4 linked regions of the Homo sapiens genome follow. Changing the gene in region 4 together with the main gene of any one other region gives a genetic interaction. Each region holds a gene or a part of one and is shown on either strand. Other genes may lie near its edges. The genes, in order: HNRNPA2B1, CFLAR, NOL3 and TNFRSF1A.

Region 1 (7,036 bases), on a different chromosome or scaffold from region 4:
ATTTTCCTTTGCAGAGAGAAAAGGAACAGTTCCGTAAGCTCTTTATTGGTGGCTTAAGCTTTGAAACCACAGAAGAAAGTTTGAGGAACTACTACGAACAATGGGGAAAGCTTACAGACTGTGTGGTATGTAAATTACTGAATTGTTACTGGATATTAGTCTTTTAGCTGTATGTTAAGTGAATCATGGAGGAAATAACTATCAGCATAGTAAAAAATTCTATTATGACTTCACTTATAAGCTATAATGAGATTAAATGCTAAAGTTTACCCTTTGGTTTGAAAGGTAATGAGGGATCCTGCAAGCAAAAGATCAAGAGGATTTGGTTTTGTAACTTTTTCATCCATGGCTGAGGTTGATGCTGCCATGGCTGCAAGACCTCATTCAATTGATGGGAGAGTAGTTGAGCCAAAACGTGCTGTAGCAAGAGAGGTAAGCAAACAATGACTGTCTTGTGCATTAACATGAAGAACGCTGCCCTGCTGAAAATCAGAAACTATTTCTGAATTTAGTTTTAACTCAAGATTTTTTCTCTTATTAAAGGTGTGTTGGGTTTCTGGACCATTTTCTTAAGCTAGCTTATTTTTCAAAAGCTAGGTCCCTAAAAGCTATTTTATATCTGGTAGTTTTAAGGTGGATACAAGCGAAGTATGGTACTACGGTTGGGTGCTTTGAATTATGCTTGTGTTTTTTTCTGTTTGGATGACTTTTACCCCACCACTATTTTAGGAATCTGGAAAACCAGGGGCTCATGTAACTGTGAAGAAGCTGTTTGTTGGCGGAATTAAAGAAGATACTGAGGAACATCACCTTAGAGATTACTTTGAGGAATATGGAAAAATTGATACCATTGAGATAATTACTGATAGGCAGTCTGGAAAGAAAAGAGGCTTTGGCTTTGTTACTTTTGATGACCATGATCCTGTGGATAAAATCGTATGTAAGTGTCTAACCACAAATGTACTGTTTTTTTCCAGTGTATTCAATTTTGTGTATGTTAACATCTGTAACTTTATTGAAAGGTAAACTTTTGAAGCTGCTTAATATTGTTGATTTAATTTAAAAGGAGTCTGAATTTTTCATTCCAGTGCAGAAATACCATACCATCAATGGTCATAATGCAGAAGTAAGAAAGGCTTTGTCTAGACAAGAAATGCAGGAAGTTCAGAGTTCTAGGAGTGGAAGAGGAGGTAATTTTAATTCTGTTTCTTCTTTATTTTTGTTCATATATAAGGGCTTGCTTCTAACTGGGGCATTTATTGTAGGCAACTTTGGCTTTGGGGATTCACGTGGTGGCGGTGGAAATTTCGGACCAGGACCAGGAAGTAACTTTAGAGGAGGATCTGGTGAGTTTCAAGTTCTACGTGTTTAAAGGATGAGTGTGCTTTTATTTTAAATATGATTAGGTTTTCATTAGTAGAATCAAGAAATCCAACCTAAGTCAATTTTCCTAAGACTTCAAATAGATTGTATCCTGGCAAGCTCTTGTGATTTGGCCAGACAAGAAGTTAATAGAGTTGTATTAATAACAGTTGTATTTATCTGGATTAATAATGTAACATGAAGTGTCATCCGAAAAGCTTTGACCCCCATCAAGTGTCATTCTTACGTATAAATAGGATGGAATCTCTAAGATTGAGACTTGTTAAGAGTCCAAAATTTAGGCGGTAGATTTAATTATATGCTTTCATGTTTTGTGGGTAAACTGGTAGCACTGGTGTGTCCTTTTCTGCGGTTCTTAATTATTGTGCTGAGGTAGTAAGAGAACTGAAAATGAATATTAGCAATAATGCTGAACAGTTTATAGTAAACGTAATCTTTTTTTGGCCCCTAACAGATGGATATGGCAGTGGACGTGGATTTGGGGATGGCTATAATGGGTATGGAGGAGGACCTGGAGGTCAGTTTTCCTCTACGTTTTGGTTTGTTTATGTGACTAATACTTAACTATATCGTATATTTACTTCATTTATATTTTGAGTTTTTAAACATTTTATATTAGTGTCTATAAATGGCTTGGGTGATAGTGGTCCAGTTATTTCTAAGTAGTTTTGCCATCTTAGCTGTTATAGCCTAAGGAATAGAGTGCCATTTTAAATGAAAATGTAAAGATAACCATCAGAGTATCTCATCTTTTCTCAAGCAAAATGATTGGATCTAGATATATCTTTGTACGTGCTTCTCTGGAAAAGTACAGAATACTGGATTTAACAGAGTAAAACCTAAGGGGGTGGTATATGTAGGAAAAAATATGAAATATGTCTAAACCCGTAACTAGATGGGAAGCATCCCAGGATAACTTTCAAAAAGCGTAACCTACGGAAATGTTCCAAAATGTTTAGTGTGCTCCTGGCTGCAGATAAGGTTGTGAACTACCATTAAACATGAAGTGTGATATATCATTGGCGTACAGAAAAGGCTGATACACACTGACAGATTTTGTAACAAGGGACATTTAAAACTGAGCTGGTAATAGACTTGATTTCTGGTGTTGCCACTCAATAGGCATGACTAAATAGTGTATCTCACTGTTCTACTTTTTATAATTAAAATTTTAGAGGAAGCTGAGTTCTTGTATTTAACTACAAGTTAGAGACTCAGCCCACAAGCTTTTTTTTTTTTTTTAATATGGTTTCTTTTTTTTTTTTTTTTTTGAGACGGAGCCTTGCTCTGTCACCCAGGCTGGAGTGTAGTGGCGCGTCTCTGCTCACTGCAATCTCTGCCTTCCCGGTCCAAGTGATTCTCCTGCCTCAGCCTCCTGAGTAGCTGGGATTACCGGCGTGCACCACCACGCCCAGCTAATTTTAGTATTTTTAGTAGAGACGGGGTTTCCCCATGTTGGTCAGGCTGGTCTTGAACTCCTGACCTCGTGAACTGCCCACCTTGGCCTCCCAAAAACGCTGGGGTTACAGGCGTGAGCAACCATGCCCAGCCTTTTTTTTTTTTTTATTTTTGTTTTGCAGTATGTGAAAGTGTAAATTTTTGTTTATGTCCGCACTTCTATTTACAGTAAAGAACATACTGTGTGGAGTGTTGGGTCTGTTTTTTTTCTTTGAAATGGGGTCTGGCTTTGTTGCTCAGACTGGAGTGCAGTGGTGTGATCTTGGCTTACTGCAATCTTAGTCTCAAGCCATCCTCCCACCTCAGCCTCCTGGGTAGCTGGAACTACGGGGTGTGCCACCATGACCGGCTAATTTTGTGTTTTTTTGTAGAGGTGTGGGGGTTTTGCTGTGTTGCCCTGGCTGGTCTTGAATTCCTGGGCTCAAGCAATCCACCCGCCTCAACTTCCCGTACTGCTGGGATTACAGGTGTGAGCTGCTGCGCCCAGCCAAGAACATTGTTTCGTTTTTTGAGAGGGAGTCTCTCTCTGTCGCCCAGGCTGGAGTGCAGTGGTGTGATCTCAGCTCACTGCAACCTCTGCCTCCCGGGTTCACGCCATTCTCCTGCCTCAGCCTCCAGAGTAGCTAGTACTACAGGTTGCTGCCACCATGTCCGGCTAATGTTTTGTATTTTTAGTAGAGATGGGGTTTCACCGTGTTAGCCAGGGTGGTCTCAATCTCTTGACCTCGTGATCCGTCCGCCTCGGCCTTCCCAAAGTGCTGGGATTACAGGCATGAGCCACTGTGCCCAACCGAGAACATTGTTTTAAGATATGTAATTCGTAGAGAGACATAATAGAAACTTTATCTTTTGGGCCAGTAGGAGGAAGTGCTCTTTTACTTTCCCTCTAGCCCACACTACTAGTCTAGCCTCACAGTCCTTACCCACAATATACATGAAGTATTTCAAGATACTTAAGATTTTTAGTTTTGAGGGAAAGCTGTGGAATTACAGGTATTTAACTGTGTGCACATGGTGTTATCCATTTGGCTGAGTAACCCCAGCCACCAAATGTTTACCAAGGATAGTTATTCAGTCCTTGAAGCTATTTTAGAGGAATTTCATTAAATATTTCACATGGAAACTTGGAAAGCTGGAAATGGATGTGAGGAGACAGTTCAAAATGGTATTGAAAATATTAAGTGATTACTTAAAGGCTTATTTTATAATAGGTGGCAATTTTGGAGGTAGCCCCGGTTATGGAGGAGGAAGAGGAGGATATGGTGGTGGAGGACCTGGATATGGCAACCAGGGTGGGGGCTACGGAGGTGGTTATGACAACTATGGAGGAGGTAATAAATTCACCTGCAACCTTTATGTGGGAATTTGGAATTAATGTCTTTGTAACACTTGATCTTTTGTTTCCATGTTTGTCACTAGATGCCCATAAAATTTGTGGATAAGTGTTTGCTTTTATTTGTTTTTATGGGAGCTTTGTCCTAAGTCCTTGGTTTAATGTTTGTATTGTTCTGAGTATTCCAATTTTTTAATAGGAAATTATGGAAGTGGAAATTACAATGATTTTGGAAATTATAACCAGCAACCTTCTAACTACGGTCCAATGAAGAGTGGAAACTTTGGTGGTAGCAGGAACATGGGGGGACCATATGGTGGAGGTAATTTATAAAAATTGAGGTTATTCAGATTTTTGTGATTAAAGGATTAGCCTTTTGTGACTTAAAGGGAAGATAACATACTAAGTAGTTTGTACTGTGGGCAGTGCTCCATGTACGGTCTTAGTGAAAATAAAGAAATTTTGCATAAATCTCCACAGAAGTACTCAGCAAGCAGTTATGACATCAAATTGGGATTAGGGATGTTGGAGGTGGGGGTGTTCAGTAGTTTAATTTCTGGTGGGGACTCATAAACAGCTAAATACAGTTGCAACCCACATTGCAAGTGGTATACATTGGAATGAGGGTCTTTGAAGTTAAATCCTTAAACCATGATTCAAACCATTGCTTAGCTTATTTTTGAGGTTTTTAGCTAGGAGTAAACTAGCTTTGTCTTGGGCTTGATGTACTTTTAAAAAAATCCCTTACTCAGTCCAAATGAGGATGAGAGGGTGAAAGGACCCTTTATTTAAAAGAATAGGGTCAGCCACGAAATAAAAATGTCTATGAACCCGAGTAATTTATCTCCTGAGTAATTCTGCTAACTGGCTGCAAAGGATTAGGATCTGCTTGTTTAAAAGACTGGATGGATATAAAATAGAATCAACTGTAGTGTTAGGCTGATCATGGGAAATCAAAGTAAGTTTGTTTTCTCTTGCTGTTCCAACAATTATAGGAAACTATGGTCCAGGAGGCAGTGGAGGAAGTGGGGGTTATGGTGGGAGGAGCCGATACTGAGCTTCTTCCTATTTGCCATGGGTAAGTAGCTTTTGAGTTTTACAATTATTATTATCTTGGGAGACATAGCTGCAGGAGTAAAAGCTTTTTAGGATCATGTTATCTTTCCTTAAAATCTGGTTAGATGGATAATTTCATAACCTATTTTTTTTTTACTCTTTACTTCTGTTGAAACAGGCTTCACTGTATAAATAGGAGAGGATGAGAGCCCAGAGGTAACAGAACAGCTTCAGGTTATCGAAATAACAATGTTAAGGAAACTCTTATCTCAGTCATGCATAAATATGCAGTGATATGGCAGAAGACACCAGAGCAGATGCAGAGAGCCATTTTGTGAATGGATTGGATTATTTAATAACATTACCTTACTGTGGAGGAAGGATTGTAAAAAAAAATGCCTTTGAGACAGTTTCTTAGCTTTTTAATTGTTGTTTCTTTCTAGTGGTCTTTGTAAGAGTGTAGAAGCATTCCTTCTTTGATAATGTTAAATTTGTAAGTTTCAGGTGACATGTGAAACCTTTTTTAAGATTTTTCTCAAAGTTTTGAAAAGCTATTAGCCAGGATCATGGTGTAATAAGACATAACGTTTTTCCTTTAAAAAAATTTAAGTGCGTGTGTAGAGTTAAGAAGCTGTTGTACATTTATGATTTAATAAAATAATTCTAAAGGAAATTGTGTAATTATAGACTTTTTATTTTAAATAAGTTAAGGAGTGGGTAGTATAATTAAGGTCCGTTGCAAAGCTGTTGTTATATTTGTATAAGATAAATGCTGGTCAGATGTAAGTGTGTTGTCTGCAATTCATCAGGATTAAATTATGTAGATAACTTAAGGGATATCTCTGCAAGGAGAAACACCTTTTTAGATCTTTTAGATGCTGCTTCTTCAATGCAAGGAAAGGAAATAACCCCAGCGAGGTACTCTTCAGGGACACAGGTCTAGTACAAGAGAACTCTTGACGGCTACTAAGTTCAGCCAGTCTTAAAAAACTGTGCTGTTTCTACAAAACTTTAACTACAGTAGTTTATAAGGATGCCAACGAAAGCTGAGGGTGTAGAGCAAAATAGTTCTAAGCTTCAGTTAAACTTCTTTAGGTAAGATCTTATTTACTTTTCCTTTCTTAATTTTCCTCCCTAAAAGATAAACTAATACTCTTAAATGGTCTTTCAGTATAGTGGTTCTTACGTAGTTTAACATAGCTATAAATTGAGTTTAACAATTTATAAACTCAAGAGAATAATTTTTATAAACCCTGTTTTCCAATCTGTCATTTACTTAAATTATTTTGGTTGTTTTTCCCTTTTTTTCCTTCTTTTCCCACCCCCTCCCCCTCCATGTGAAGATTTGGGTGCTTAACATATCATTTTTTTCCCTGCCGGAATTTTAGCATTGATATGAACCATGGACAAGTATATTCTGCTGCCACAAAGACTGTAAAGTGCTTCATTTCAACAGCTGAGGCAAGCCAAGTGATCATTAATAAAGCTTTTCTTGGTTCCTTCAGTGGTGTTGGTAGTAAAATGGTAGGTAAAAGTTAGGCTGCAAGTTCAATAAATCATGAGATTTCCCATCGTTACACCCTTGTGTATTCACATTTCTTGGATCAAACATTTTGAGTGAACTAGGGGTTTTTATTAAAGACATTTGTTGTATTTATGGTTGTAACTGTACATGCTTATCAGGATGAGACTGAAAGAAGGTAGGGCAAAAATGGTTGAATCTATTTTCAGATAGTAGTTCATACTTGAGTGAAGTGTCTTGTCTGCATTATGAAGCCTGGTATGTATCCAGTACTAAATAGGTGG
Region 2 (7,036 bases), on a different chromosome or scaffold from region 4:
GCAATCTCAGCTCACCGCAATCTCCACCTCCCAGGTTCAAGCGATTCTCCTGCCTCAGCCTCCTGAGTAACTGGGATTACAGGCATGTGCCACCATGCCCAGCTAATTTTGTATTTTTAGTAGAGACAAGGTTTCACCATGTCGGCCAGGCTGGTCTCGATCTCCTGACCTTGTGATCTGCCCACCTCAGCCTCCCAAAGTGCTACGATTACAGGCGTCAGCCATCATGCCTGGCTTATTCTCTCCATTTTCAAGGTGAGGAAGCTGAGCAGTGAACTACACTCCTACCTTCTCTAGTACTGATTGAGCTGGGATTCAAAAGCTGGACTCCAAAACCTATGCTTTTAACTACTTTGCCTCAATATAATTTCCATGAAGGTGAGGGAGTTTATCTATCTCCTACTATGGGTCTCCAGTACCTGGAAGAATACCTGCTATGTAGGTGTTCAATAAATAATTGTTGGGTGAATGAATGAAGGAATAAGCTCTCCCAGTGTCAGTGTGTTTCTAAAAGCCATTCCTTTTTATCTTTAGAGTTTAGCAGACTCTCTTCTACCTATCTTCCCTTCTCTCCTCAAAAAACCAGACTTTTATCCAAAAAGCATGCAAGTCCCCCAAGTATTTAAAGCTTTATTTCTTTGTTTGTCCAGTAAATGTTCGTTGAGGGCCTACTATGTGCAAAGCACCATGCTTGGCCCTGTGTGAAGCAAATATTAAGGCAATGAGGTGGAGTCTGATCTCAGAGCTGTGTTGTGCATGAAATAAGGTTATTCTTTGGTAGTTCTTTCTTGAGAAGAATTCTTATGGAGTTCAGTAACCTCTTCTTGAGGCAGAAGTAAATGCTCAGGGATTTGGGAACTAATTATCTCAGTTTGGTAGAATTGAAAAATAAGTCTTTGGTGTTGTGTCATCTGTGTCAGTGACAGCAAAGCTGGACCTGTGCTAGGCCCTGGTGGGTCATCTTTAAGCACTGGACTTTTATCTTGTTAGGAATATAGAAGCAAGCGTCTCACATCTCTGACAGATGGGCTTTACGGCTTGGCCTAAAGCTCTGGTTGTTTTTAAGGCCCTTGAATAAAAATAAAAGACGATGTTTGCAGATTTTAAGAGGAAGTTTTTTTTTTTTTTGAGACAGAGTCTCGCTCTGTCACCCAGGCTACTGGAGTGCAATGGCGTTATCTTGGCTCACTGCAACCTCTGTCTCCCGGGTTCAAGCGATTCTCCGCCTCAGCCTCCTGAGTAGCTGGGATTACAGGCACCCGCCATCATGCCCGGCTAATTTTTGTATTTTTGTAGAGATGGGGTTTCACCATGTTGGCCAGGCTAGTCTTGAACTCCTGACCTCAGGTGATCCGCCCGCCTCGGCCTCCCAAAGTGCTGGGATCACGGGGATGAGCCATCGCACCTGGCCAAGAGGAAGTATTTTTTTTTTCTATCCTGCTCTTTCTGAAAAGCTTGAACATTTTTCTGTACTTTCCTTTTCTTTTTTGAGACAGGGTCTTGCTCTATCACCCAGAATGGAGCACAGGGGTACAATCATGGCTCACTGCAGCCTTCACCTCCCGGGCTCAAGCAATCCTCTCACCTCACCCTCCCAAGTAGCTGGAACTACACACAGGCGCCACCACATCCATCTAATTTTTAAAATATTCTGTAGAGACAGGGTCTCACTATGTTGCCCAGGCTGGTCTCAAACTTCTGGGCTGAAGCAATCCTCCCACTTCAGCCTCCTGAGTGGCTGGGACTACAGGCACATGCTATCATGTCTGGCTAACTTTGTTTTTTATAGAGACAGGGTCTTTTGCTGTATTTCCCAGGGCGGTCTTGAACTCCTGGCTTCAAGTGATCTTCCTGCCTTGGCCTCCCAAAGCACTGGGATTATGGCCATGAGCCACCACGTAATCTTTGTTTTATGCGTATTTATAAGCTTTGCTTCCCCAACAAGATTATAAGCTCTTTGATTGAAGTACATCATATATTTGATATGTATTCTCTTGTCCAAGTGTTTCTGTAGGCAATAAGGGGAACTTTGTAAAACAAGAGTTTTCCGGTCAAGTAAATTTGAGAAGCGCTGCCTAATCTCTTCCCCCTCAGAGATTTGCAATGCATATTGACCTATTAAAGGCTCTGAGAATTCTTCCTGCGAAGAAACCTATTTTAGCCTTGTCCACCTTGCATTTCCCAAACACGTTTGACCTCAGAACTCCCTTTTTCACTAAGAATGTTTTGCCCATCTTATGTTTTACCCATGTGCTCTATAGCAGTTAACACTGGGCTTATTAAAGGTACTCAATATGTGATTGTAAATTAACTGGTGAAGCATTCCCTCATTCTTGTTTATTTTATACATTTATTTAATGAAGCCCTTTTCATAGAAATTGTCAAGATAAATGTATCCTCATTTAGATCAAAACAAATTCTAAATTAATGAAGTCATGACATTTTACTGTATTTTGGTTTTTTTGGTTTATCTGTGAAGTCCTCAAACCTGTGAGTAGTGCTGACCCTAGCCTTGAATGAACAGCCCTGTACTAACTGCAAGGCCAGAAGAACCCCTGCCCTTCCCCTCCCCACCCCCCCACATCATTTCCAGAAGTTCTAAAGAACAGTTGAAATTTACGGAGATCAGACTGGGTTGAGTGTGGGATTTCCAGGGTGGGTTCTAGAAGGAGAAGTGGGTCTTCTGTAGTTTGTTGAAATTTTATTTTCCAAACCCAGCCCCCAAGTTTTTCTTCCTCTATTTATGTGCAAGGACAAAACAGTTACTGTCCTACCTACATAGGATATGGACTCTGTCTGCTCTGAGCCCATTTTAGTTTAGAATATAGAGACCTCCCTCCAGGTCCTAAGAGAGAGATTCCATGAGAGATGTGCAACACCATAAGGTTGGTGATTTGTACTTTGAAATGGCTGCCTTTATTTCCTTTAAAGTCAATATCTTATATTTGAATAAACACAGTTTGCAAAGCATCTTTACAGAAATCTCATTGGATCCTCACGGTCACCTTTTTTCTGAGACAGAGTCTCACTCTTTCACCCAGGCTGGAGTGCAGTGGAGCGATCTTGGCTCCTCCACTTCCTGGGCTCGAGTGATCCTCCTTCCTTAGCCTCCCAAGTAGCTGGGACCACAGATGCGTGCCACCATGCCCAGCCAATTTTTGTATTTTTGGTAGAGATGGGGTTTCGCCATGTTGCCCAGGCTGGTCTCAAACTCTGCAGCTCAAGCAATCCACCCGCCTTGGCCTCCCAAAGTGCTGGGATTACAGGTATGAGCCACTGTACCCTGCCCTCACAGTCACCTTTTGAAGAACCTCCTGCTCAAGAGATCCTCCTGCCTCAGCCTCCTGAGTAGCTGTGATGACTACAGGCTTGTACTACCATGCCTGGCTAGTTTTTTTATTTTTTGTAGAGACGGGGTTCCCTGTGATGCCCAGGGTGGTCTCAAACTCCTGAGCTCAAGCCATCCTCCCACCTCAGCCTCCCAAAGTGCTGGGATTGTAGGTGTGAGCCACTGCACCTGGCCAAGCATTAGTTTTAATCTTGTTTTATAGATGAATAAACTGGGGCTGACTCAAACTGACTCAAAGTCACACTGTCATTACCTTTTTGATCCTGTACGTTAGACTGGGCTGTATGCATGTTCTTGCTGGCGCAATAAAGTTGCAAGTGCCAGCTAACAGCCCTTCCCACTCCACCTCACCACCTCATAGAGGAAAATTGTGACGTTAATGGGAAATGTCAGCGGTAATGTCTTCAGGCTGGGCCTGTGGAGTGACTCCCTTGCCACAGGATATTTAAGCAATGCTGTGTCTTGTCTGAGGCTCAGACCTGCTATTCTTATTGGCACTTGGGACCTGCATGGTTTTTGGCTTCACCTCCAGCTTTAGCCATTTTTCTTCTGTTCTTTTAGGTAAGGATTTTCTGCCCCAGACCTCAGATTCCCATTTCCTTCCTAGCTTCTCTGCTGTTATAGCTCAGTCTCTTCCAAGACCATGCAAGATTCAGACCCTAGTAGGAGGAGATGGAGGAACTAGGACTTAAACCCACATCTTGTGATTCCAAGGCTGGTTCCTCTTTTGCCCTGCACCACACAGCTGTCTGCTCACAGTCATGTGACAGGGGCTTCCCCAGCCAGAACCTCCAGGGAGCACAAATAAAGGAAAGAGCTGGAAGGCACAGTACAGCATTTGTTCTGTCCAAGCCTTACATATCAGCATGGGCAGGGAGAATGTGGTGAAGTTTTCTTTCAAGGACTTTGTTTGATAAGGAAGGACATTTATCAGTGAAGAGAGGTTTTGAGGGAAGTGAACCAATCTTGAGATAAGTACACAAAAGAGCTTTGAGTCTGGTGTTTCCCTGTTTGCTTCTGCCCCCTGGAGGAGCAAATACTCCATGATTAGAGACGTGTGAGTCCTTTGGAATAGAATAGCAGTGATGGAACTGGAGTCCTAGTCCAGGTTCTCTCCTTGTTCAGCCTGGATTCAGCACTGGGTATCGAAACAAGCCTGCACCCTCAGAGGAGATGGCTAGGGGACAGTGCGTCCAGGCCTCTTCTACCACACAGAGTTTTCTTTTTTTTATAAAGGGTATACACATTTAAAATTTAATGATACTCCCAAATTGCTCTTCAAAAAGGCTGTGCAAAATTACAGTCCTGATAACAGCTACCCAGAGATCCTGTAACGGCATTTGCCCTCATCATTATTATTATTATTATTATTATTATTATTATTATTTGAATTTGAGACGGAGTTCTGCTCTGTTGCCCAGGCTGGAGTGCAGTGGCGCAATCTTGGCTCACTGCAACCTCTGCCTCCCGGGTTCAAGCAATTCTCCTGTCTCAGCCTCCCTAGTAGCTGGGATTACAGGTGAGCACCACCACGCCTGGCTAATTTTTGTATTTTTAGTAGAGACGGGGTTTCACCATATTGGCCAGACTGGTCTCGAACTCCTGACCTCAGGTGATCTGCCCGTCTCGGCCTCCCAAAGTGCTAGGATTACAGATGTGAGCCACTGGGGCTGGTTGCCCTCACTATTTAATGGGTTATTTGCAACCTGTGAATCATGTCTCCTATTTCCTTGTTAATGATGCTTATTGATTATAGACTTAGGAATATCAGCACCTCCTTTGTAGCTCTTCATTCTTACATGATATAATAATTAATTTTTTTTTTTGAGACAGAGTCTCACTCTGTTGCCCAGGCTGGAGTGCAGTGTCACAATGTTGGCTCACTGCAACCTCCACCTCCTGGGTTCAAGCGATTCTCCTGCCTCAGCCTCCTGAGTAGCTGGGACTACAGGTGCGTGCCACTACACCTGACTAATTTTTGTATTTTTAGTAGAGACAGGGTTTCGCCATGTTGGCTAGGCTGGTCTTGAACTCCTGACCTCAGGTAATCTGCCCGCCTCAGCCTCCCAAAGTGCTGGGATTACAGGTGAGCCACTGCGCCCAGCCAATAATTCATTGTTTAATCCTTAGTTGTGGGCCAAGCAAAGGAGAAAAGTAAGAAGCCTTTTCCTTTTACCGATAGGAAAGGTCAAAGGACTTACCTGGTGAATTATTTACCTAAAAATGTATACAAATCACTCCAAAATTTAGTGGCTAAAAACAACAGTACTAATTTAATTATATCTTCACAGTTACTAATTTAATTATATCCTCACCTGTGGGTGAGGAATTTAGGAGCAGCTTAGCTGGGCTGTTCTGGCCCAGAGTCTAGTGAAGTTGTGGTCAGTTGTCAGCTGGGTCATCTGAATGCTTGATTGGGATTGGAGGCTCCACTTCTATGGTGGTCACTCACATGACTGAGAAGTTGGTGCTAGCTGTTGGCAGGAAGCCTGTTCTTCATGTGGGCCTCTCTGAGGGACTGCTTGAGTACTTTCATGATGTGGTGGTGGGCTTCTCCCAGAGTGAGCCACTCAGAAGAGAGAAAGATTGTGAGGTCTGGACTTCAATAAGAAGATTGTTGAAGAAAAAAAGGTTTTGTCCCCCCTTGGTTTGATTGGACTAGAGTGGGCTCAGTCTGTGCCTGTGGCTGGCATCAGGCAGGAACAGTGGTATAGCAGGGTATAGACCATATTTAGGGACCTAAAATCACATCTTTCATGATTCATGTGGTTCTTGTTCCAACTGCCCAGGACTCAGGCACATCAAAATATGACACAAAAGCAGAAGCTTTTCATAATGGAGATTAGACCATGTCTAGGATTCCTACCCAGTCCTCTTGAGCTCTCCTCACTCCAGTGTTGTTTTCCGTGTTTGTTTTTTGTTTTCCCCAGAGCTTCTTCGAGACACCTTCACTTCCCTGGGCTATGAAGTCCAGAAATTCTTGCATCTCAGTATGCATGGTATATCCCAGATTCTTGGCCAATTTGCCTGTATGCCCGAGCACCGAGACTACGACAGCTTTGTGTGTGTCCTGGTGAGCCGAGGAGGCTCCCAGAGTGTGTATGGTGTGGATCAGACTCACTCAGGGCTCCCCCTGCATCACATCAGGAGGATGTTCATGGGAGATTCATGCCCTTATCTAGCAGGGAAGCCAAAGATGTTTTTTATTCAGAACTATGTGGTGTCAGAGGGCCAGCTGGAGGACAGCAGCCTCTTGGAGGTGGATGGGCCAGCGATGAAGAATGTGGAATTCAAGGCTCAGAAGCGAGGGCTGTGCACAGTTCACCGAGAAGCTGACTTCTTCTGGAGCCTGTGTACTGCGGACATGTCCCTGCTGGAGCAGTCTCACAGCTCACCATCCCTGTACCTGCAGTGCCTCTCCCAGAAACTGAGACAAGAAAGGTGAGCCCCCAGGAGGTGGTCAGTTCCGGACCACCTGCTTATTTTCGTGCCACCAGGATGGGAATTACCACTGTGCCACATTTGCTGCCCATCTCTTCCGGGAGGAAAAGAGATTTTCCCTCCTGCATTGGGCTTGCCCTAGGACTACAGTATAGACCCGGCATGATTTATAAATACTTTGTAGTTAGTTAGTTTGTAGTTTGAATACTTTTCTTTAAAATTAAGAAATTTTCAGCCTGGGCAACA
Region 3 (2,736 bases), on a different chromosome or scaffold from region 4:
TATGGTCTACTTCCTGTGGCTGGGAGCAGCAGCTCCTGAAGGTTCCGTGGGGGTGCGGGGGGTTGGACAGGACACTCCTTCTTGGAAGGCACCAATTTTCCCAGCCCCACTCCCATTACACACACACACACACACACACACACACACACACACACACACACACACACACACACACACACACACTGATTCAGGCCTTGAGAGTCAAGCCCAAGAGCTCCCTTGGCCCTGTTCCCCACTCCCTCCACTGGCCTCTGCTGTTCCTGTCTTTGCTCACACCCTCACAGCTGCTCTCTGGCAGAGGTTGGCATAGCCTAGGAGCAGCTGCAATTGCACCTGAGGGACAGGCCCTAGAGTTTGGTGGCCCAAGTCCTGAACCCCTCTTAGACCAGGTGAGGTGCAGAGGTGGTTGCTGCTTCCAGTTTCCCTTCAGACTTAGCTGTGTGAACCCCACTCCTATCCTTTGGCCTTAGTTTTCCCATCTGTAAAACTCAGAAACGCAGTTGGAAAGTCCTTATTCATTTAGTAAGCGAATATATTATAATATGTATAGAGCGCCTTTTGTGTAAGTCACTGGTCAGAATCCTCACTGAGCTCCCAGTCCAGAGAGAAGCCAGACAATTAAAACAGTAATGACAATGATGTGTGTGGCCTTTGTCTACTCAAGGTCCCTTTCTGCTCCCCTCTTCTAGTCTCACTTCCCAAGGCTGTGAGCTCTAAGCCCTCCCTATGTGGAGAGAAGTCACCCTCCCCTTGCTCCATGTTCAGCTCAGGAACTTGCGTGGGGTTGAGCTGGTACCTACATATGCTGCCAAGTGGCTCACCAGGGGAAATGGGTTGTGTATGCGGGCAGGAGGGTCAGGTCCTTGTCCCACTAGGGGGCTAGGTTTGGGATCTCCAGGGTGCAGCCTGGACTCCTAAGGGCAGATTAGGGCTGAGGACTGGATGATGCTCGTGGTGGGCTTGGGCCTGCCCAGGTCCCTGGGACTCAGAGGTACCCACCCTAAGTTCCTGGGCAAACAGCCAGAATCGTGGAGAGAGCCCAGGTCCCGTCCGACCCTCCGGAGTTTATTCACTTCCAGCGGTACTGGGCTGGACCGAGCCTTGGTGGCATCCGATTCAGCTCCAGCAGCATCCCAGGTCCTATCCAGCATGGGCGGGGCACCGCCTGTCAGAGCTCTGGCCTTCAGGAATCTAGAGATGACGGGAACAGTGGTCAAAGAGGTGGGGTCCGGCATCCGCTTCCCAGGCCATGCCCTCCCGCCAAGCCGGCTCAGGGTTTGGGCGGACTCACACCTTCGGACTCGTCCCTTTCCTCGAAGTCGGGCTCGGGCTCTGGGTCCGGTTCTGGCTCCAGTTCCGGCTCTGGTTCTGCTTCAGCCTCGGGTTCCAGCTCTGGCTCTGGCTCCGGCTCCGGTTCAGCCTCTTTAGAGGCCTCAGCTTCCAGCTCTGGCTCTGGCTCCTCCGGGGTCCCGGATTGCACCGCCTCGGAGCCCTCAGGGCCCCCGGCCTCGTCAGGGTCTGAAGCTCTGGGCAACCCGGGGCATGTGGTCCCCGAGCCGGGTGCCTCCGGCGTCCAGTGGCCTGGGCATGGAGGGTCATAGCTGCGGTCCCGGTAGCCTGGGGCGGAAGTGGGAGTGACTGAGGCTCAATTTACCCCTGTGCGGTTTCACACTCGCCTACTTCTAGCGGAGACGACAACCCTGCCCTCCCCGGGCCTTTTGTCTGCCCCAGCCCCGTCCCTGCTCTGCCCTAGGCCCCGCCCCGCGCGCTCACCCGGACCCACGTGCTGCCAGTCCCAAGCGGGGTCCGGCGCGCCCGCGGTACGCTGGGCACAGCGTAGCAGCTCCTGGCAGGCGGCCTCGCCCTTGCCCTGCACCAGCAGCAGTAGGCGGCGCACCCTGCGCTCGGCATCAGGCAGTGCATCCAATGCCTCGTACTCTGGCCCGGTGAGCACGCCCCGCGCCAGCAGCGCGTCCAACAGCAGTCCCGAGTCCGCCTGCAGCGTCTCGACCAGGCGTTTCCGCTCGCGGTCGATAGTCTCTGACGGCCGCTCCTGCGCGTTGCCCATTGTCGGGGCTGCATGGGGAAAGGGGAGAGAAGTAATGGGGGGTTGCCCTCCCCGCTGCCCTCGCCGCCTCTGACCACTCCCTCAATGCCCCCAGTGAACACCCAGGCTGGGGTTTAAGTTCACCTCGATCCCAGCCGCCGGACGGCTCCGCAAGCACAGGACCTGGAGGCCAACACGGGGAACTCGGTGTCCTCCTGCCTCTCCAGACGCTCTGTCCTGTCTCCTCCTCAGGCTCCTCCTTCTGTCCCCAAGCGTCAGCCGTGGCTCTCCTCTCCTCCCCTGCCTTTCCCAGGACTGGCATCTACTCTCTGAATGCCCTCCCCAACCAGGACGTCCTGAGCTCCACCCCCGGCAAATCCGAGGCGAGTTCAGACCCCGTTTATCCAAACTAAGGTCTTTCTCTCAAATCTGCTTCCCCACCTAACCAGGCAGAAAAACCTAGGATTGATGCTGATACTCCACACCCAGCTTGCAGACAAGTCCTTTCCAGTCTGACTGCTGAATATTTCTCTCACCATCCTCACCACTTACTAAGTCCAGCCTTCTGCCTCCTGCTTTGGCCCTGCAGAACCCAGGATCAGAGCTCCCTGCTTCCATACTCTATCCTCCAGTCCCCTCTGAACCCAGAGCACAAAGTGCTGAGAGCCTCCCTGCCCCTCTCCCCTTAC
Region 4 (7,436 bases):
CACTCCCTCTAATTCTCCCATTCACATTTCTTAGTGTTTCTCAACATGGTTTTTCCACTCCCGAACCAAGGTGTCTGGCTTCCTGCCACCCTGCCCATCAACACAAAATCCCATCTCTCCATTCCTCTCCTCTTCCTCACATCAGTATCCAACTCTGCTTCCCTCCTTTATAGCTACCCTGACAGGCAGTGACTTCAGATGTCAGCTCCACATCCACTTTTCTATGAGGCTTTCCCTCCGCCATCCCATCTGACACATCTCTTGTTCCTTAATTCCTTCAGCAAATAGTTAAGGGGCACAGTTAATGTGACAGGTCCCGTATGGGTGCTAGGGATGCTGAGGTGGATAATACACAGCTCGTGCTCTCAAGAGCTCTCACTTGAGTCAAAGACAGTCAGTTGTAGGCACTGAGATCTATACAGGGAGTGCTGCAGTTGCACAGTGAAGGACACTGAAGCAGCGTGGGGAAGCTCCTGAATTTTCTGGAGCTGAGCGCAGGAGCTGAGACCTGCTAAGCAAGGAAAGGCAGTGGACTAAGGCTCACCTCCTTCCCCAGTTCCTCCTCCTCCCAACTGGTGCTCCAGGACACCACATCACAATGCATTTGTGGATATTTTCCTCGGGATTGCTCTGAAATCATTTTTCACTGTAAGCCATCTTGGTTACTAGGCTGTAAGCTCTTTGAGAGCAGCAAAATCCTGTTTGCTTTGCCACAGTCTCTCCTGTATCATTCTTCCCTACTCCCCTACCCCACTTCTCTCTCTCTCTCTCTCTCTCTCTCACACACACACACACACACACACACACACACACACTGTGAGCTCTGCATTGCCCACTGAATGGTGAGAAATTCAGAAGGATGTTGCATTCCCTTTGTTTTCCCTTTCCTCCAGCTCCAGGCCAGGCTTCTGTCCCTTAGGAGACATAATCCCACCTGGGCTGAAGCACCCCAGGACGCAGGCACTTCCCTTTACCTGTTCAGGCTACCTTTACCCTCTGTTTTCCCAACACAGGTAGCCACCCAGTAATTACTACTAGTCACAGCAATATAAAAACTTTATTGAGTGCTTTCTATTTGCTACAACCTATTCCCCTGATGGACTGTCAAAGCTGTGGGCAGGGATTTTGTTCTCTGCTGTAATCCCAGCACCTATCACAGTGTCTAGCCCAGAGCGCACACTTAATAAATCAAATGAACACTTAACATGTATCAGTCTATTCAATCTTCAAAACAACAGTATGAGGTCAAGACTGTGACACCCATTTTGGAGATAAAGAAACGAAGGCATGGAAGGTTAGGTTATATAAGCTGCTCTTGTTCATGCAGGAGGTATGTGAGGGAGCCAGGGGCCGCCCCCAAACAGAAAACAGAAGCAGGATGTCAGGGCAGCTGGCTGGTGGGGAGACCGTGGGGGAAGGACAGTGGGAAGAAGGGAAGAGCGGGTGGGACTAAGGAGGCAGGAGGAGGCAGAAGAAGAAGAGTGAGACCCTGACCAGAGACGTGCTGCCTGGGGACCTGGGGCCGGGACCAGAGCGGAGCAGAGAGGAGGGGAAGGAGGATTAGCGAGAAAAGATTTCAAAAAAAGAGGCTCTGAGAAGTCTGAGGAGAGTCTGGGGAGATTGCTGGAAGAAAGGAATGGTAGGAGAGGAAGAGTATAAGGCACTAAAGAGAGGGGAGGTAGGCGCAGCCTTCAGAGGCCGGGCAGGGCAGGGAAAATCTGCCTGACTAGATGGGCCCAGGACATCTGAACAGGATGATTCCCGGACCAAGACGTGGAGGACGATCAAGGATACATTGAAACAAGGCTGAGGCCAGAGAAAGGGACATTTTCCAGTGACGAAAACAACTTTCTACCAACTTCCCCAAACTGAACTGTAGAATAAGAAACCAAGGGATTGTTGTTTAGGTCTGTGAGAAGCAGCGGGGAGGGGAAGCTGGAGGACAGGCCCAGGGACACTGACCAGGTGGGGGTAGGACTAGCTCCCTGGGAAGGCTCAGTCCCACAGCGGCTACCTGCCTAGCAGCAGGCAAAAGGGTAAAGAATGTCCCCAGGTGAGAGGCCGGGGCTTGGCCAGGGCACTGGGGACACTGTCCACTGGGTTGCCCTGCCCCATCCAGTGTCCCAGCCCATTCTCAAATACCTCCCACCATGAGCATCCCAAACCCACCACACCAGCCCATCCCCACTCCTCAACTCACTCCCCCACTTCACCAGCCGCCAAAATCCTGCCCTACAGGGTGTGCTCCACCAAGTTCCACAGGCAGCCTCGCCTCCCCACGGCCCAACACCCTCCAGGCCAGCCAGCTGACCGGAGGGACAGAATTCAGAACCGTCTGGACTCCCCGAGCACTAATCTTCCTACTCCCACTCCCTTCTTTTCCCCGCCAAATCTGCCCCACCCTGGGCCTATCTCCTGCCCACATTCCCTTGGCCGCCCACAAACTTCCACCGCTGTCAGGGGCCAGGGCTTCCTTTTACTCTCTCCCTTTCAAACTTCTCCCATTCCCCTGCCTCAGCGCAGCCCCTACTCCAAAAGGCGGATGAATGGGGAACCCCACACTGGCAGTGGCTGAGGTTAGGACCTGCAGGCCTGAGGCTGGCGCCAGGACCAGGCCCGGGCAGGAGAGGCTCGGCCCCCTCCCGGAGAGGGCCCACGCCAGCCGGAAGGTGCCTCGCCCACCAGCCCACTCTTCCCTTTGTCCCTGGTCTCACCAGTGGCAGCAGCAGGTCAGGCACGGTGGAGAGGCCCATGCCAGACAGCTATGGCCTCTCACTCCCCCATTTGGGCTCAGGGCAGTGTGGCAGCGGCAGTGCTGGGGCTTCCCGGGACTCGGTCTGTCCAGGACGTCCCAAGTGCCTTGGGGTGACAGTTGAGGGTTGAGACTCGGGCATAGAGATCACGGCCTGGTCCCAGTGATCTTGAACCCCAAAGGCCAGAACTGGAGCCTCAGTCCAGAGAATTCTGAGAAAATTAAAGCAGAGAGGAGGGGAGAGAAGGTGGGAGGGGAAGAGTGAGGCAGTGTTGCAACAGCGGGACAGGAAGAGCTGGAGGAGGAGGCCACAGGAGGCGGGAGGAGGAGGCCCAACGTTCTTTAACTCTTTGTAGTCCAGTCACAAGCACAGGAGTCCCAGATCTGGCTGCCTTGTGCCCCCAACCCACCAATCCGACCACTCCCAACCAAACACCAAGGGGCAATAAGCCCCTTGCCCACATCACTAGCCTTTCCCAGATGGATCACAGCAGTGAAAAGATCCAGAGTCTGGGAGTCAAATTCTCTGGGTTCCAATTCAGAATGCTTAGCTTTTTAGCTAAGAATGTGTCTTGGACACATAAATGAACTTCTCAGACACATAACTGAAACTGTCTGGATCTGTTTTCCAATTTGCAGAGTGGAGATAACCTGTCTCCTGGGGTTCCTGTAAGGATTTGTTCAGATGGGAGAGATATAGATAAGCGTCCGACACATGATAGGTACTCCATGTCCCTTAGTAATCCTCCCCTTTACTCCAGAGTTCTTCACTAGCCTCCTAGTCTCCCTCTTTCTTGGGAATTTACTGATCCAATCCAAAACTCAAAGTAAGTCCCAACCCTCGTTTTCTGCCCTGACTGGGTGCCTGCCATTCCTCACCCCAGGTCTCATCCAGTCTCTGCCTGGCCAGGTCCCCCCACCCTGCCCCACTGTTGATCCTGGCTCTGCCACCAATCATGCGACATCAGGCAACTCCTCTCCTAAGCCTCTGTTGGTTCCTTGTTTATTAAACAGGGGTAACAATGTCTGCCCACCTACATGGGGAAAGTGATGCCATGAGAATCAATGAGACGTATCCACGAAGCTGCCGTGGAAATAAAGATACCTCCATCAGGTGTTCCTAGCATATTCCCAGTGCCCTTTTCCTAAATATTCCAATACATCAATTATAACTCACCTTACAGATCATCGACTACAACCCCCTAGGTTTTTTTATTTCTTCGTTTGCTTGTTTTTCATTTTTGTTTTTGTTTTGAGGGTCCGCTCCGTTTCCCAGGCTGGAGTGCAGTGGTACCATCGCAGCTCACTGCAGCCTCGACCTCCCAGGTTCAAGTAATCCTCCCACCTCAGCCTCCCAAGCAGCTGGGACTATAGGTGCATACCACCACGCCTGGGTAATTTTTGTATTTTTTGTAGAGACAGGGTCTCACCATGTTACACAGGCAGGTCTTGAACTCCTGGGCCCAAATGATCTGCCCACCTCAGCCTCCTAAAGTGCTAGGATTACAGGTGTGAGCCACCGTGCCCACCCAACTGCCCGGTTTTATAGAGGAGAAAACTGAGGTCCAGAAACCCAATGTGCCAGGAGGCAGAGCCAACAGAGAACCCCAGACTCCCGACTGCCGGTCCAAGGGCCCCTTTGGCTATGAGAGACACACTGCCACTTTTTCTGTCACTGAGTCAGACCCCACATCCTGACTCTGGTTACTTTATGCCATCCTCATTGATGCAGACATCTCCCAAGAGAATCCTACAACAAAGGTACCACATTTACCCAACTATCTTCTTGGTACAATGACCTTCCCTACATCCAGCCCCGCCCAAGGGCCTGCAGCTGCTGAGGCTGCTAGAAATGCAGGCAGACAGAGAAGAGGGAGGTCCTAGGGCTTTGGAACTTGAAACCAGAGCTCCTCACCCCTTATCCCTCTGAGATGACCTCCCAGCCCCAAGTCCACCGTCCCCTGGCTCTTCCTGGCTTCCCCTCTGTGATCCGCAGATGAGAATGGAGCTTCAGTGTCCCTCACTGCGGGGGGAGCTGACTTTACTCCACCCCATCGTCCAGCTTCTGGAGAACTGTAGGGTTGAAGCTGGATTCAGAAAGGAAGCAGCTCACCACCATCACAAAGGGAGACCCCAGGGACAGGAGAAGCGAACCCAAAGCAGTGTTCTTGAAGAAGCAGGAGCCTCAGAATCAAGTGCAAGTTTCCAGTATGAAGCAGCGAGAAGAACCTCGGTCTGCTCATCTAAAAAATGGGAAACCTGCTGGTACCCTTCACAGAGCTAGCTTGATGCTTAAATCAAGCATATAAAGTGTTTGGCAAGTGTTTGCCATATATTAAGCATTTAGTAAGTGGTAGCAATTAATTTTTTTTTTGAAACAGGAGCTTGCTCTCACCCAGGCTAAAGTGCAATGGTGCAATCATAGCTCACCTAACCTAGAACTACTGGCCTCAAGCTAGCCTCCCACATCAGCCTTCCGAGTGGCTAAGACTACCATCGCACACCACTATGCCCAGCTAGTTGTATTAATGATTAATAACAACTTCAGAAGGATAAGTGATACAGGGGAGTATGGTATGTGAGAGGGCGGCAAAAAAAAAAAAAAAAAGCAGAGTGCGGTGGCTCACGCCTGCAATCCCAGCACTTTGGGAGGCTGAGGTGGGCGGATCACAAGGTCAGGAGTTCGAGACCAACCTGACCAACATGGTGAAACCCTGTCTCTACTAAATATACAAAATTAGCCAGGCGTGGTGGCGCGTGCCTGTAATCCCAGCTACTCAGGAGGCTGAGGCAGGAGAATTGCTTGAACCCAGGAGGCAGAGGTTGCAGTGAGCCGAGATCCTGCCAGTGCACTCCAGCCTGGGTGACAGAGCGAGACTCTGTATCAAAAAAAGAAACCAACTTCAATGTCCTATTTTTTTTTTTGATAGAGTTTCACTCTTGTTGCCCAGGCTGAAGTGCAGTGGCACAATCTCGGCTCACTGCAACCTCTGACTCCCGGATTCAAGCAATTCTCCTGCCTCAGCCTCCCGAGTAGCTAGGATTATAGGCATGTGCCATCATGCCCGGCTAATTTTTTGTATTTAGTAGAGACGGGGTTTCACCGTGTTAGCCAGGCTGGTCTCAAACTCCTGACTTCAGGTGATCCACCCACCCTGGCCTCCCAAAGTGCTGGGATTACAGGCATGAGCCACCACGCCCGGCCTCAATGTCCTATTTTTAATGTTATAAGGTATTTCTAATAGTCTGTGCAAAGCGCCAAAGCCGTGACACATAGCCTGGTACAAAAGGAGAATATTTTTCAATATTTAGGATACATGCTTATTTACTCAATAACTTTACAACTTTGACACGTCATATTACATTTTTCAATAAAATTTTGTTTAAAAAAAAAGATGATGAGAAGTGAGTGGATCTAGGAATATGAAAAGCTAACACGTTTCGTGGAGGAGGTGAGAATGAGACCATCATCCCTCCAGGGACAGAAAAAAATCATGGTCAGAGGAGATGGAGAAACAGGAGAGGGGCAGACTAGGGATGACAGAATCGGCTGTTAGGGCTTGTAGAGCAAAGGATGAAGAAAACAGCTACAGAGAGCAGGGACCTTCCTCCCGCATCATGGCACACACACACACACACACATGCTTAACCCAAAGGGTCACTGGACTCCAAGTCCAGATGACGTGGGTTCTAGCCCCAGACCTGCCATTCAGACTCTATGTGTCACAGGGTGGCAGGGTGAGTCATAGAAAGGGAGCTGGGTTCATGGCAGGTTCTCTAAGAATTATGAAGCTCAGCAAGTCACTTCAACTACTAAGCCTGATAAGGAAAATGAGTCAACTTGAACCCTTTTATCGCTAACAGCCTGATTCCAACTCCTAACCCCAGGGTCCAGGAGTAACCCATAGACAAGTGAATGGAGATAAGGAGACAGCTCTGGGGAAAAAAGCAGGAGGCAAGAGAAGCAGGAGCCTGGGGGAGCTGACTGCAGTCATCCGTAATACATCTGGCTATGTCCGGCAGGTCCTCCTGCCCCAGCCAGAGGAGAGGGCACTGGGGACCAGGTGGGCCAAGGCTGAGGCTGAGGGGGCAGACAAGTGCCGTCTGCACCTGAGGGCTCTGACAGAGGAGACTGCAACACCATTTCCCCTTCATCAGCTCAAGTCCAGGAAAGGGAAGTCAGCAGTCGTCACACCGTTTCAGGTCATGACCCTGTCTACCTTCCTACCCCTGTCACCAGCTCCTTCTCCTCTTTCCCCGAAAGTCTCTTCCTCCTTTGGCTCCTCAGAACAGGGAGACTGCAATTAAGATGAATAAGACTAAGGTGGCAGGGACAGAATCCCCAAAGATGGTGAGAAAGGGTCACTTCTGGATTCCAGGTCTTATGCTGGAGTGGGGGAGAAACAAGGATCGGAGAGCTGGAGTTCCACTCGCACATCCTTCAGCCCCTCCCTGGACCTCAGTCTCTCCTTTACTAAAGCTGGGAGGATTCCCTGTGCCCCTCTCTGCAATCATGTACCAATAAGACCATATAAGGCTTTGCATTTCCAGGAGAAACTGGCCTGAGCCTCATCATCCTCCACCACCACCAGACAGCTGATGGGAGGCAGGCAGATGAGGGTTCATTGCCGCCAGGTGGTAAGTGGGACTCAGCAAGTGGAGTGGGGGATGGGGAGGTTAGTGA

What was found.
Region 1: changes in TNFRSF1A (region 4) and HNRNPA2B1 together harm fitness more than expected from each alone (negative genetic interaction), as found in Homo sapiens cells (one study listed by BioGRID).
Region 2: of TNFRSF1A (region 4) and CFLAR, changing one suppresses a phenotype caused by changing the other (phenotypic suppression), as found in Homo sapiens cells (one study listed by BioGRID).
Region 3: of TNFRSF1A (region 4) and NOL3, changing one suppresses a phenotype caused by changing the other (phenotypic suppression), as found in Homo sapiens cells (one study listed by BioGRID).

What each region holds. Positions count from the first base shown.
Region 1 is NC_000007.14:26,190,711-26,197,746, reverse strand, and holds part of HNRNPA2B1 (heterogeneous nuclear ribonucleoproteins A2/B1), read left to right. Parts: intron 1-14; coding exon 15-125; intron 126-285; coding exon 286-432; intron 433-729; coding exon 730-940; intron 941-1,088; coding exon 1,089-1,190; intron 1,191-1,265; coding exon 1,266-1,346; intron 1,347-1,837; coding exon 1,838-1,900; intron 1,901-4,052; coding exon 4,053-4,172; intron 4,173-4,373; coding exon 4,374-4,496; intron 4,497-5,169; coding exon 5,170-5,231; 3' UTR 5,232-5,252; intron 5,253-5,408; 3' UTR 5,409-7,036. UniProt on the Homo sapiens protein: Heterogeneous nuclear ribonucleoprotein (hnRNP) that associates with nascent pre-mRNAs, packaging them into hnRNP particles.
Region 2 is NC_000002.12:201,154,153-201,161,188, forward strand, and holds part of CFLAR (CASP8 and FADD-like apoptosis regulator), read left to right. Parts: exon of another isoform or gene 1-255; intron 256-3,602; exon of another isoform or gene 3,603-3,640; intron 3,641-6,279; coding exon 6,280-6,790; intron 6,791-7,036. UniProt on the Homo sapiens protein: Apoptosis regulator protein which may function as a crucial link between cell survival and cell death pathways in mammalian cells. Acts as an inhibitor of TNFRSF6 mediated apoptosis.
Region 3 is NC_000016.10:67,173,502-67,176,237, reverse strand, and holds the end of NOL3 (nucleolar protein 3), read right to left. Parts: exon of another isoform or gene 2,370-2,736; coding exon of another isoform or gene 2,192-2,369; intron 2,077-2,191; coding exon of another isoform or gene 2,069-2,076; coding exon 1,774-2,068; intron 1,618-1,773; coding exon 1,294-1,617; coding exon of another isoform or gene 1,292-1,293; intron 1,192-1,291; coding exon 1,184-1,191; coding exon of another isoform or gene 1,141-1,183; 3' UTR 501-1,140; downstream 1-500.
Region 4 is NC_000012.12:6,339,062-6,346,497, forward strand, and holds the start of TNFRSF1A (tumor necrosis factor receptor superfamily member 1A isoform 1 precursor), read right to left. Parts: upstream 3,016-7,436; 5' UTR 2,754-3,015; coding exon 2,715-2,753; intron 1-2,714.